Linked DNA regions of Homo sapiens: regions 1 and 3 are each reported to be linked to region 2. Evidence: microRNA targets listed by miRTarBase, many of them from high-throughput screens and not tested one by one. Region 2 holds a microRNA gene; each other region holds the end of a gene's coding sequence.
The links. The annotated mature microRNA hsa-miR-6841-3p reads ACCUUGCAUCUGCAUCCCCAG and lies in region 2 at 2,449-2,469, shown strand. An mRNA with a match to its seed (bases 2 to 7 or 8) in the 3' UTR can be bound and repressed. Matches are read on the target gene's strand: a 7mer-m8 pairs with bases 2 to 8, a 7mer-A1 pairs with bases 2 to 7 and ends in A, and an 8mer does both.

Region 1 (4,065 bases), not on the chromosome of region 2:
ACCCTCTGCCTCCTGTCTCCTAGTCACCTTCATCTTCTCCACCCTCATGCTATTCCCCATTAACATCTGGATCTTCGAGTTGGAAAGGAATGTATCCATCCCCATAGGCTGGAGCTATTTCATTGGTTGGCTGGTGCTTATCCTATACTTCACCTGCGGTGAGTGGCCAGAGGGCCCTGGGGGAAGGAAGCGACATGGGTAGGGTAGGGCAGGGAAAGTGTGGAGGGAAGAGGCTGGCAATCCCCAGGGCTAGATTTTTAGGGTCTTATCTTCCCTTTGGTCTCACCCTACTTGTCACTTAACCTCCCAGTCACAACTTTCCTCTCCCCTGTCCCTGTCCTTTCCCAGCGATCCTTTGCTACTTCAACCATAAAAGTTTCTGGAGTCTGATTCTGAGCCACCCCAGTGGTGCCGTGTCCTGCAGCAGCAGTTTCGGCTCAGTAGAAGAATCTCCAAGGGCACAGACGATCACAGACACCCCCATCACCCAGGAGGGAGTCCTGGATCCTGAGCAGAAGGATACACATGTGTAATCTTTTCTGAACTCCTGGCACCAAGTTCTGTCCATTCATCTGACCCCATCTCCTCATCCTCCCCCAGCCCTTGAATAGGTTGGTCCTCATCATTGCAAGGAATGAGAAAGGGAGGATTTTGCACTCCTCTGCTTTCTCCCTGCCTTGATTGAGCTTGAGTGATGTGGAATAAATTGTCCGTCTCTTCTTTCTCATATCTGGCTGTTGTTGAGGCAAGCTAGAGGAGGAGGGAGAGGAAGGGAGAAAGAACAAGTTTGTTTTCCAGTTCTTCCTGCCCAGGAGCCTTTTGGCACCCGTTAGTGCCTAAACCTGCCCAACCTCTACCAGAACATACTTGTACATGGGCAAACGCCTCTGGAGAGCTAAACCTCTTTTTACTTTGTTACCCCTGACCCAACATTTGCTAGTTAGTGGGTGGAGGAGGTAGAGCTGATTAGGAGACAGATATCACTTGCCAACTTGTTGGCTTAAGCATAGTGAAGGATTCAAAAGCCAAATGGCTCAAAGATAAGAGGCAGGTTAAACAAGGAGCACCACAGCACAAGTGGTCAGCCCAGGTGTGTGTCCTGGGCAGCAGTCCCACCCTCTGTGTCCAGCTCCGATGACAGAGCGCATAGAGCCTGTGCCCTGGAAACCACCACTACCACCATCCCCCCAGGCTGCTATAGCTTTCCACCCAAGCCTCCCACACCCTCCACCATGTAACAGCAGGAATAAAACATGGCAACAAAGGAAAGCATTAGGGTTAGGTCCTAAGACCAAAAGGTAAGTTGCATATTTGGGTTTTAAAGTTAGCTTGGGGAATGCTGGCAATGCCCATCAGGCTTTGGACATGTTGCCCAGAGAGGCCAGCCTCCTAGGAGAGCATCCATAGCTGATCTTGGTCATGTCTATCCCTCCAGATGAAACCACAATACATCCTGCTGATTGGTAGAGCCCAGTGGTCTGTTTTGATAGGGCGCTGATTGGTGCGTTTACAATCCCTGAGCTAGACACAAAGGTTCTCCACGTCCCCACCAGAGCAGCTAGATACAGAGTGTTGATTGGTGCATTCACAAACCCTGAGCTAGACACAGGGTGCTGATCGGTGTGTTTACAAACCTTGAGCTAGATACAGAGTGCCAATTGGTGCATTTACAATCCCTTAGCTAGACATAAAGGTTCTCCAAGTCCCCACCAGACTCAGGAGCCCAGCTGGCTTCACCCAGTGGATCCCACACCGGGGCTGCAAGTGGAGCTGCCTGCCAGTCCCGCGCCGTGCGCCCGCACTCCTCAGCCCTTGGGTGGTCGATGGGACTGGGCGCTGTGGAGCAGGGGGTTGGCGCTCGTCAGGGAGGCTTGGGTCGCACAGGAGCCCACGGAGGGGGTGGGAGGCTCAGGCATGGCGGGCTGCAGGTCCCGAGCACTGCCCCGCGGGAAGGCAGCTAAGCCCCGGCGAGAAATGGAGCTCAGCGCCGGTGGGCTGGCACTGCTGGGGGACTCAGTACACCCTCCGCAGCCGCTGGTCCGGGTGCTAAGCCCCTCATTGCCCGGGGCCTGCAGGGTCGGCCGGCTGCTCCGAGTGCAGGGCCCGCCAAGCCCACGCCCACCCGGAACTCCAGCTGGCCCGCAAGCGCCGCGCGCAGCCCGGGTTCCCGCTCGCGCCTCTCCCTCCACACCTCCCTGCAAGCTGAGGGAGCCGACTCCGGCCTTGGCCAGCCCGGAAAGGGGCTCCCACAGTGCAGCGGTGGGCTGAAGGGCTCCTCAAGTGCCGCCAAAGTGGGAGCCCAGGCAGAGGAGGCGCCGAGAGCAAGGGCTGTGAGGACTGCCAGCACGCTGTCACCTCTCACAGGGACAAATTGTGAGTGGATCAGGTATGTTAAAAATATATGTATTAGGTTGGGCCGCGTGAGGTGGCTCATGCCTGTAATCCCAGCACTTTGGGAAAACTAGGTGGGCGGATCACTTGAGGTCAGGAGTTCGAGACCAGCCTGGCCAACATGGTGAAACTCCGTCTCTACTAAAGATACAAAAATTAGCCGGGTGTGGTGGTGCATGCCTGTAGTCTCAGCTACCTGGGTGGCTGAGGCATGAGAATCGCTTGAACCTGGAAGATGGAGGTTGCAGTGAGCCGTGATCGCGCCACTGCAGATTGAACCATATATGTTGTGTTAGTAGTTAAATGTGGCAATTTTATATGGTTCAACCTAATGTATATGATCGACTTTATTTATTTATTTATTTATTTATTTATTGAGACGGAGTTATGCTCTTGTTGCCCAGGCTAGAGTGCAATGGTACCATCTTGGCTCACCGCAACCTCTGCCTCCCAGGTTCAAGCGATTCTCCTGCCTCAGCCTCCCTAGTAGCTGGGATTACAGGCATGCACCACCATGCCGGCTAATTTTGTATTTTTAGCAGAGACGGGGTTTCTCCATGTTGGTCTGGCTAGTCTTGAATCCTGATCTGCCCGCCTCAGGTGATCGGCCCGCCTCAGCCTCCAAAGTGCTGGGATTACAGGTGTGAGCCACCACGCCCAGCTGACTTCTATTTAATATGAGCCCTGTCTGAGATTCTTGTTCTTACCACACCTGATCAGCAATTGTAGCATTCCTAACCCAGGAAAGATTCCTAACAAAGGAAAGATTCTGAGCAAGGAACATAATACAAGGGCTTGAAAATTAGGCACAACAGATATTCCACAAATCTCTACTCTGTATCCCACTTTAATCCTCTCCCCAGTAGCGAACAAGGATTTACTAGGGGACTTACTGAACTAGTCATCCTGGAGGAAGGGACACCAAATAAAGGAATGTCATGGTCTCTGCCTTAGGTACAAACACACGTATGTATAATGTAATTAGAGAAACTGACTTAGTGATTTTGTAGGGGTCACAAACTCAAATGCATACAGGGGCTAGGTGGGTAACATAAATAAAGGGGGCCACTCTCACAGTCTGTATATAATTTTTCCCTTTTGATAAAGATCTGGTGTATTAGCTATTTATTGCTGGATAACAAATTACCCCACATTTAGTGGCTTAAAATAATAAATATTTATTATCTCACATCATATCTGAAGGCCAGGAATGTAAAAGCAGCTTAGCTGAATAATTTGTCAAAATTATTTAAAAAATTTTAAAAAACTTTTAAAAATTATTTTATCATATACAACATGATGTTTTGAAATAGGTTTACATTGTGGAATGGCTGAGTTGAACTAATTAATGTATGCATTCCCTCACATACTATTTTTTGTGGTGAGAACACTTAAAACCTACTATCTCAACGTTTTTCAAAATGCAATACATTGTTATTGACTATAGTCACCATGTTGTACAATAGGTCTCTTGAACTCATTCCTCCTAATTAAAATCTTATAGTTTTTTTTTTTTTTTTTTTTTTTTTGAGATGGAGTCTCGCTGTCTCCCAGGCTGGAGTGCAGTGGCGCGATCTCGGCTCACTGCAACCTCACGCCATTCTCCTGCCTCAGCCTCCCGAGTAGCTGGGACTACAGGTGCCCACCACCACGCCTGGCTAATTTTTTTGTGTT
Region 2 (4,066 bases):
GTCCATCCGCACGCAGGAGAAGGCGCAGCTCCAGGACCTCAATGACCGCTTCGCCAGCTTCATCGAGCGCGTGCACGAGCTGGAGCAGCAGAACAAGGTCCTGGAAGCCGAGCTGCTGGTGCTGCGCCAGAAGCACTCCGAGCCATCCCGCTTCCGGGCGCTGTACGAGCAGGAGATCCGCGACCTGCGCCTGGCGGCGGAAGATGCCACCAACGAGAAGCAGGCGCTCCAGGGCGAGCGCGAAGGGCTGGAGGAGACCCTGCGCAACCTGCAGGCGCGCTATGAAGAGGAGGTGCTGAGCCGCGAGGACGCCGAGGGCCGGCTGATGGAAGCGCGCAAAGGCGCCGACGAGGCGGCGCTCGCTCGCGCCGAGCTCGAGAAGCGCATCGACAGCTTGATGGACGAAATCTCTTTTCTGAAGAAAGTGCACGAAGAGGAGATCGCCGAACTGCAGGCGCAGATCCAGTACGCGCAGATCTCCGTGGAGATGGACGTGACCAAGCCCGACCTTTCCGCCGCGCTCAAGGACATCCGCGCGCAGTACGAGAAGCTGGCCGCCAAGAACATGCAGAACGCTGAGGAATGGTTCAAGAGCCGCTTCACCGTGCTGACCGAGAGCGCCGCCAAGAACACCGACGCCGTGCGCGCCGCCAAGGACGAGGTGTCCGAGAGCCGTCGTCTGCTCAAGGCCAAGACCCTGGAAATCGAAGCATGCCGGGGCATGAATGAAGCGCTGGAGAAGCAGCTGCAGGAGCTGGAGGACAAGCAGAACGCCGACATCAGCGCTATGCAGGTGCGGCACGGCCAGAAACACAGGGGGGCGGGGGACTCGAGCAAGGGGGGGAGTTGGTGCGCCCAGAAAGTGGAGACCAGGGGTGGTGCGGCTGCACGCAGCTCTTAGGGATAGGGCTTGGCTCCTTGGCCACTGTGTGGGAGGGGTGGGGCACTTGAAGGGCGTGAGTGCGGGCGCCACTGTAGTCTGGGAGTGTGCTCCGTGCTGCTGCACCGGCGTTCCGCATTAAAGCTGCCCAGCCCTTGTTGGGTGGGGGAGGGGAAGACGTGGGAATTGGGCGTTGCCTCCGGCCTGCAGTGAGATCAGCTCTCTACTGACCTGCATTAACCACAAGTTACTTTGCAGCAACTATCGGATCATCTAGTTAATAAATAGTAGAGTGAACAACTCTCAATTAATTCTGAAGGATTACTGTGACCAGCATGCTTTATGACTAGTTTTACCAACCACTCCCTTCCTTTATTTAGTAGGTAGACAGGAAAATAGTCAACATTGTTTTAGGTAGTTAACTAGTGATGTTCATAGTAAACCATTTCCTTTTACCTTTTTTTTTTCTTTTTTTCTTTATGTGTAAAATCTTCTACAACATTTCTGTTTAAACATCTCCATCTTCTGGGGAGTAGAAAAAATACAATTTTAAAAAGATCTCCATTTTAAAACATCTCCATCTTCTGGGGAGTAGAAATTTTTTTCTTCTTCTGGGGAGTAGAAAAAATAATTTAGATACATAGGAAATATTTCATAGAAAATAATTTTTTTCTTTTTTTTGTTTACATCTGGCTATTTTCTTCTCATAAAGAAAGGCATTAGTTTCCTGGCATGTAACCCAGCTAAAGAAGAGTTAATCAGTGAATGAGAGACACAGTTTTTCTATCAACTTAGTCTGTTTGCATGCATTTTATGATGATCATTAAACAGTATTAAGTAAAGAAACAGAAGAACAGAATTTTCGTCCATCTTTTTTTTCATCTCAGGCTTCATGAACTTGGGTATTTTAGGCATGAAGGTTTTTCAAAAGATACAGGAAGTTATTCTAGGAGAGATTTTATCAAAGGTGTGCACCTTGATTTTAATCGAAACTAGGCCTTTGCAACTACACTACAGTAAAATAATAGAAGGGATTTATGCTCGGATTTTTTTTTTGTTTTATTTTTGTCTTCAAACAGGACACGATCAACAAATTAGAAAATGAATTGAGGACCACAAAGAGTGAAATGGCACGATACCTAAAAGAATACCAAGACCTCCTCAACGTGAAGATGGCTTTGGATATTGAGATTGCAGCTTACAGGTGAAAATAGAGGGGCAAAGACAGCAGCCATTAAACCTTAGGAAGAAAATCAGATCCCATTTAAAGTTATGTTGGATCAGAAACCTTCAATAATAGTCCTTTTGAAATAATGAAGTGTTAGTTTTTGGCTTCTTCCAAGAAGAGGGTATTTAGATATATAAGAATTTAACCCTGTAATTAGGAGTCCTGTTTTTATCTTGTCATTACACTTTAAATCTAATAGGATGATTTATTTATATTTTTTCTGGTCTCCATCAAAAGATCCCCAGGCATTAAGTATTGATAAATCCCAGCCCTGCTCCTGCTTGCCTTTGTGTTTAGGGTACTCAGAGCAAGTTGTGAAACACAGGTGTTTTTTAACCTCACCTTGCATCTGCATCCCCAGGAAACTCTTGGAAGGCGAGGAGACCCGACTCAGTTTCACCAGCGTGGGAAGCATAACCAGTGGCTACTCCCAGAGCTCCCAGGTCTTTGGCCGATCTGCCTACGGCGGTTTACAGACCAGCTCCTATCTGATGTCCACCCGCTCCTTCCCGTCCTACTACACCAGCCATGTCCAAGAGGAGCAGATCGAAGTGGAGGAAACCATTGAGGCTGCCAAGGCTGAGGAAGCCAAGGATGAGCCCCCCTCTGAAGGAGAAGCCGAGGAGGAGGAGAAGGACAAGGAAGAGGCCGAGGAAGAGGAGGCAGCTGAAGAGGAAGAAGGTATGATAAGAAAAAACCCCTGCAACTTCAAGTGTAAACTGGGTGTGGAGATTTGTTAGGAGGTGGATAAGACAAATGAAGCCTTGCTCATTTATTCATATATGACATTAGAATCATAAATAAATTTTCTGTTTGTTTAGCAAAACTTTCCTAAGGCATCTACTCTGAATGAGGTGATTGGTCAAAATTTTCATTTTTTAATATAATCATTTAACACAGCAGGTTGGTGTCCTAAAGAACAAAAATAGATACCAGACACATAATGAAAGAAATATTGAGGTTAAGTCTTGGAGAGGAGCAGAGCTTCCCATACCTAGAAGTGATCTCATTCGATTTAAATATGTGTTCAGTGGCAAATTATTCATGGCAAGCTTTGTCTGTTACATGTGCTTTTGGAGAGAGTGGAGCTGGGAGGTTTTGGTAGCATTCTGACAGTTGTGTTTGCAAATAAAACCTTTGCAGACATGTTTTGACTGGACTTACCCTGGATTTGCATTTTGTACATTTTCTTTTTATGTTAAAGCTGCCAAGGAAGAGTCTGAAGAAGCAAAAGAAGAAGAAGAAGGAGGTGAAGGTGAAGAAGGAGAGGAAACCAAAGAAGCTGAAGAGGAGGAGAAGAAAGTTGAAGGTGCTGGGGAGGAACAAGCAGCTAAGAAGAAAGATTGAACCCCCATTTCCTTAATTATTTCAGGAATAATTCTCCCGAAATCAGGTCAACCCCATCACCAACCAACCAACCAGTTGAGTTCCAGATTCTATGTGAATTAAAAAGTCAATATATGTATAATTCTGAGATGACTTAGGTTGGACATTCAATGTTGTGCTATGAATTTCCTCTTTATGCAGAGTATCTGTTTGCTTGCAGAGTGGCTTTCTGGCTTGCTGCCAGCCTGTGCATGGACCACGCTTATGAGTTCAGGATCTACGGCAATGTGAATCATTCAGATGTTTACAATAAAAAACACCACATGAGTAAATGAATTCACTAATGTTAATGTTAAACTTCATGGAAAAATAGTCCTTTGAACCTTCGGTGGTTAGCAATTAAAGACCCTGAGTTATGTGCAATAAATAGTAAATAAAGTTATACCGAATGATGTATTTTTTGCTGTGGTTGTTACTTAATTAAAATACCTTAAAGATGGCACCAATATAAAGTATATACCAGTGGACTATTGACCTCCAATTTTTTAAAAAGTTGAAATTTTAACAATTACCAATACTTTTTTTTCTTCCTTCAATTGGAAATTCTGAGGGATACAGTTATGTCATGATTA
Region 3 (4,065 bases), not on the chromosome of region 2:
ACTCACAGGGGCAGGAGATGAAGGATACACCAGTGAGGCAAACAGAAGACCGAAAGAATGTCTTATTCTTCCATTGTTTTCATTGAGAGCTCTGATTTTTAGAGCTGGAGATTATAGCAAGACCAGGGAAAAGAAATTAGGAATGGAGGAAGGTGAATGGAGGAAGGTAGATGGAGGAAGAGGGAGATGAGAGGAAGGAATGAGTGACCTGGCCTGGAAATCTGAGGTTTTCTGGAAATCAGGAGTTTCTGGGAGGGAGAGTGGAAAGAGGGGAGGAGAAATTTGAATTGGGGGCAAGGTTGGAACTTTCTAAGAGGCAGTCGTGTGGCCCAAGACACTCCCAAGACACTGGGGGAGCCCTGAGGGCAGAAGCCTGGTTAGGAGGTGAAGTAATTCTTGGCAAAGCCTTTTTGACACAGGAAGGCATGGAGCCAGGAGCCTGGAGCAAGACAGGGAAGGTGGAGATGCAGGAGGGATTGTGAAAGCTTCAATGCCATCAGAGGCCAAGGAAACCAGGCAGAACTTTCAGGGCAGGAGAGAACCTGTGCAGATTCCAGTTCATTTCTGTTAGAGCAACAGAGATGTGCAAAAATGAATAAAACAAGGAGAGGGAAATCTTGGGCTTTAGGCTTCCTTTGTGAGCAGGAGGGAGGCTTTTACTGTAAGGGTGGATGGTACTTCTATGTATGGTAGAGGCCACCAGCCTGGTTGGGCTAGAAATCATGGCATCTAGGTTCCAGCCCCAGAAGCCTCTTTTATCTGCTACGTGAACTTGCCTATTGATGTGGCTTTGCTTGTTCCATGAAGATGGATGGGACAGCTGAATAAATGGGATACCTCTCTGTCCCAGCTATGACATAGTTTTCTGGATTTTGAAATGTGGGACTGAATTGGAGCAAGTCTGTAGACCTATCTCTACTTCTTTTTTCTTCCCTCCTCCCCTCCCTCCCTCCCTCTCTCCCTCCCTTCATTCCTTGCTTCTAGACCCAAAGGTGAAGCAGAAGAAATCCTTGAAAAGAAGTAAGCATTGCAGTAGAATTTTCCAACCCAACTGACATCAGAGCCTTTCAGCCAGACAGTGGTAAGGCTGGGATGAGAAATGTCTTGGAATCAACTCATCAACAACCCCTGAGAGAGACAGAAACCCTGTCAGAGACAGGGCTTGGGGAGGACCCCTGGGGAAAAGTGTCACCCTGGGGGCTGGAGAACTTGGTGCTGAGAAGCTTTGACACTGGAGATGGGATCAGCTTTCTGGTTTGGTGTATACCTGCATGTAGACACCTGGGAAGGGCATTCTCAGCCACTCAGGTCCTTTCCCCTCACCACCAGCATCCTGCCTTCCAAGGGATGGCCACAGATTAGACGATTCAAAGGTGCTGGGCTCAGGGGCCCAGCTGGGAGCCACCTGCTCTATTCAGACTCACTTCTTCCTTTCCAACCCTCTTAGCCTCACCTTCTGGAACAAACTCTTATAAACCCCTGGGGACCAGCCCTTAAGAAGGTTTATGTGTCTGTTGGGAGGAAAGCAGAGAGGGTAGTCCCTGGCCTTCCAGCCGCACGACTCCAGGAATGCATCCCCAGTGTGGGGTCTGACAGTGGCTTTCACAACCCCCAGCCTCCATCCCCCTAAGATCCAGGGTGATGGTTTCCTGTTCCTGTTGGGAGGCACACCCTGCAGAGGGGAGAAGGAGATGAGAGCTTTGGAACTCTTGAAATCAGTGAAAGGACACAGTCCATTGCTTTCTCTGTGGTTTGTGGACTTGGTTAGATTAAAAATCTCCAGGGCTGACACCAATAAATTCTCCTTCTACACTCGCCTTTTTAAAGGGCCATGAGTGCAGAACTGAGGGCAGGTAAAACCCCATTTATAAGGGCACTGCTGTTGGATCTGACTGTTTTTAGGATCACACCTTCACCCAATAGCCTGGAGTTGATTCCCCCAGCCCCAACCCAGCGGGTGCCCTGGCCCTGAGAATGAGGGAACCCCTTCTTTCCCCCACCAGGCTCTCTGGTCTTGGGGGAGCGGATGCTGCTGAATTCACTGTCACCTCCCCAGGAGGCCGTCACACCATGCCAACCCCCAGGCTGGAGGCGGGGAAGAGGCTGAGGTGGGCGGGCAGTGGCGGTCCCCCAACAGAGCTGAGGACCATGGTCTACCAGGTACCCCAGTGCCTGCACAAAGGGATGATGCTGTGGGGACCTGCCCAGTTAGCCCCTAGGCCAGTCGCCTGGAGGACCTTTGTTTGCTTTTGCTAATAGGTCTTTGTCCCTTTGATCCAGAGGAGGCACGGATCTGAAGGATCAGCTAGGAGGAATAAAGTTGCAGGGAGGATGTGGGGGAAGGGGACACAGGCAGTAGGAGTGATCTCTGAACTGAGCAGGTAGACAGAGATGGGGAAGGAAGGATGAGCGGAGAGGATGCAGGACAACCACCTCTCATCCTCCTTGTCTGGGGGCTGAAAAGCTGCTCTCTAGAAACTTCTGTCTAGGTCCTGCCGGAGGTGCATGTGGGAACAGGTGGAGCCCTGCAGGATGCGAATGTTGAGCCCGAGACCCCGCACATCACAGTGGCCCTCCCCACCCTGGCTCTCTGGCCACCGCAGGTGCCTCCTGGGAGCAGAGCAGGGGTGGAGAAGGCAGCCTGAGTGGCAGTCATGGTCAGGTCTAGAGGCCTGGAGGGAGTGCGGAGATGATCGGGTGTCTGGGAGGGCCAGCACCCCATTGCTACTCCCCTCTGCGAAGGCTACAGCCAAAACCCCAGAAAACTCAAGGGTGAAATCCTCAGGGCCAGGGAAGGAGCACAGCCCGCTGAAAGGACAGGCCCAGGGTCCTTATGGGCGGGCAGTCAGCTGGAAGGGGGTGGAGTTCCCACCAATGGGGAGGCAGCTGAAGGAAGGGAACCCCTCCTGGTCCTGGAGTTGAGGGGAGGGGCACAGGGCCAGGGTTGGGCCCTCAGGGGTCAGCAAAGGAAGGGTCACTCAGTGGGGACCAGAGAGTTCCAGCAGGCAAGAAAAGAATCATTATTGTGCTTATGGACACAGCAGCTCCCTGGCTCTGAGAGAGCGAGCAGGCAGTTTTTAGGCACTAGGAGATTTCTGTGATGCGGTTCTAGATGAATGAATGAGACCGAGTAGCCTATCCGGTCAGCCCACTGATTGGACCCGCTGGCCCCTTCAAACCCAGGCAGCTTCAGACCACAGTCAAGCAAGGGTCTCTCTGCTGACAGAACCTGCAGCTGAGTCCCCCGGATGGGGAGAAGGAGGCGCGGGACGGAAAGGGAGTTGGTGAAGGTGGTCGGGGGTGAGAATGGGGCCTAGCCCCCTCCTCACTCCCCACTGATTCTTCTGGAGGAGCAAGAGCGATTGCTCTTGGTCCTGGGTCTAAGTGTATTGGACCAGGCCATCGGGGCTGTGTCCCCGGGGGTATGGCTTTTTGGGCAAAGGTGGCCCACCCCCACTTCCTACAGAGGGGACAAGGGAAGGGAGAGTGGCAAGGCTAGAAGCTCTGCTCCTGGCCCCTCCCGGCCCCCGCTCTGCTCTGCCACGCCCAGCAGCCCCGGCCCTGCCCCGCCGGTCACACGGTCACTTCGGTCTTGCTGGCTGTGTAGCAGGTGTGGTGGCCCGGGATGTAGTGCAGCTGCTCCACCGTGTTGTGTCTGCGTGAGGCAAAGGCATGACGCTTGGCTGCCGTCTGGCTCTGGCCCAGGGTGGCGTATGAGTTATTGGAGGCACTGGGATGAGAGTGCATCTTGCTCATGCGGTAGCGGTCCAGCACGGGTGTGGACACAAAGACGTCCGTGTGCGAGATGGCCCTGGACAGCGACTGCTCGGGAAAGGCCGTCCGCTCCGGGGACAGCAGCGGGTCCTGGGAGTGCAGGCGCTCCGTGGAGAGCAGCTGCTCGTCGGACAGGATGCGGTCGTAGGGCATGCTGAACTCATCTGGCAGGCCCCGATCCGGGGACAGGACCCTGTCCTGGGACATGGCCCGGATGGGCCGGCGGGGTCGTTCCCTTGGCAACGGCTTCTGTTGGGACATCTGGATGACATTGAGGGGGAGGGTGCCGCG

Region 1: the mRNA of ODF4 is a reported target of hsa-miR-6841-3p. Seed matches in the 3' UTR shown: 8mer at 627-634.
Region 3: miRTarBase lists SHISA6 as a target of hsa-miR-6841-3p. Seed matches in the 3' UTR shown: 7mer-A1 at 972-978.

The regions. Positions count from the first base shown.
Region 1 is chr17:8,345,320-8,349,384 of GRCh38, forward strand. ODF4 (outer dense fiber of sperm tails 4) reads left to right here. Exons shown (of 3, transcript NM_153007.5): 2 at 24-158; 3 at 349-727. The coding sequence ends at 533. Among named protein-coding and RNA genes, the nearest start is that of ODF4, 7.5 kb to the left of the region's middle.
Region 2 is chr8:24,952,199-24,956,264 of GRCh38, reverse strand. MIR6841 (microRNA 6841) reads left to right here and starts at 2,398; the gene lies at 2,398-2,469. It overlaps NEFL (neurofilament light chain), which reads left to right. Exons shown (of 4, transcript NM_006158.5): 1 at 1-793; 2 at 1,960-2,084; 3 at 2,470-2,789; 4 at 3,313-4,066. The coding sequence ends at 3,455. RefSeq lists an enhancer at 903-2,102.
Region 3 is chr17:11,557,813-11,561,877 of GRCh38, reverse strand. SHISA6 (shisa family member 6) reads right to left here. Exons shown (of 6, transcript NM_207386.4): 6 at 1-4,065. The coding sequence ends at 3,574. Among named protein-coding and RNA genes, the nearest start is that of DNAH9, 39 kb to the left of the region's middle.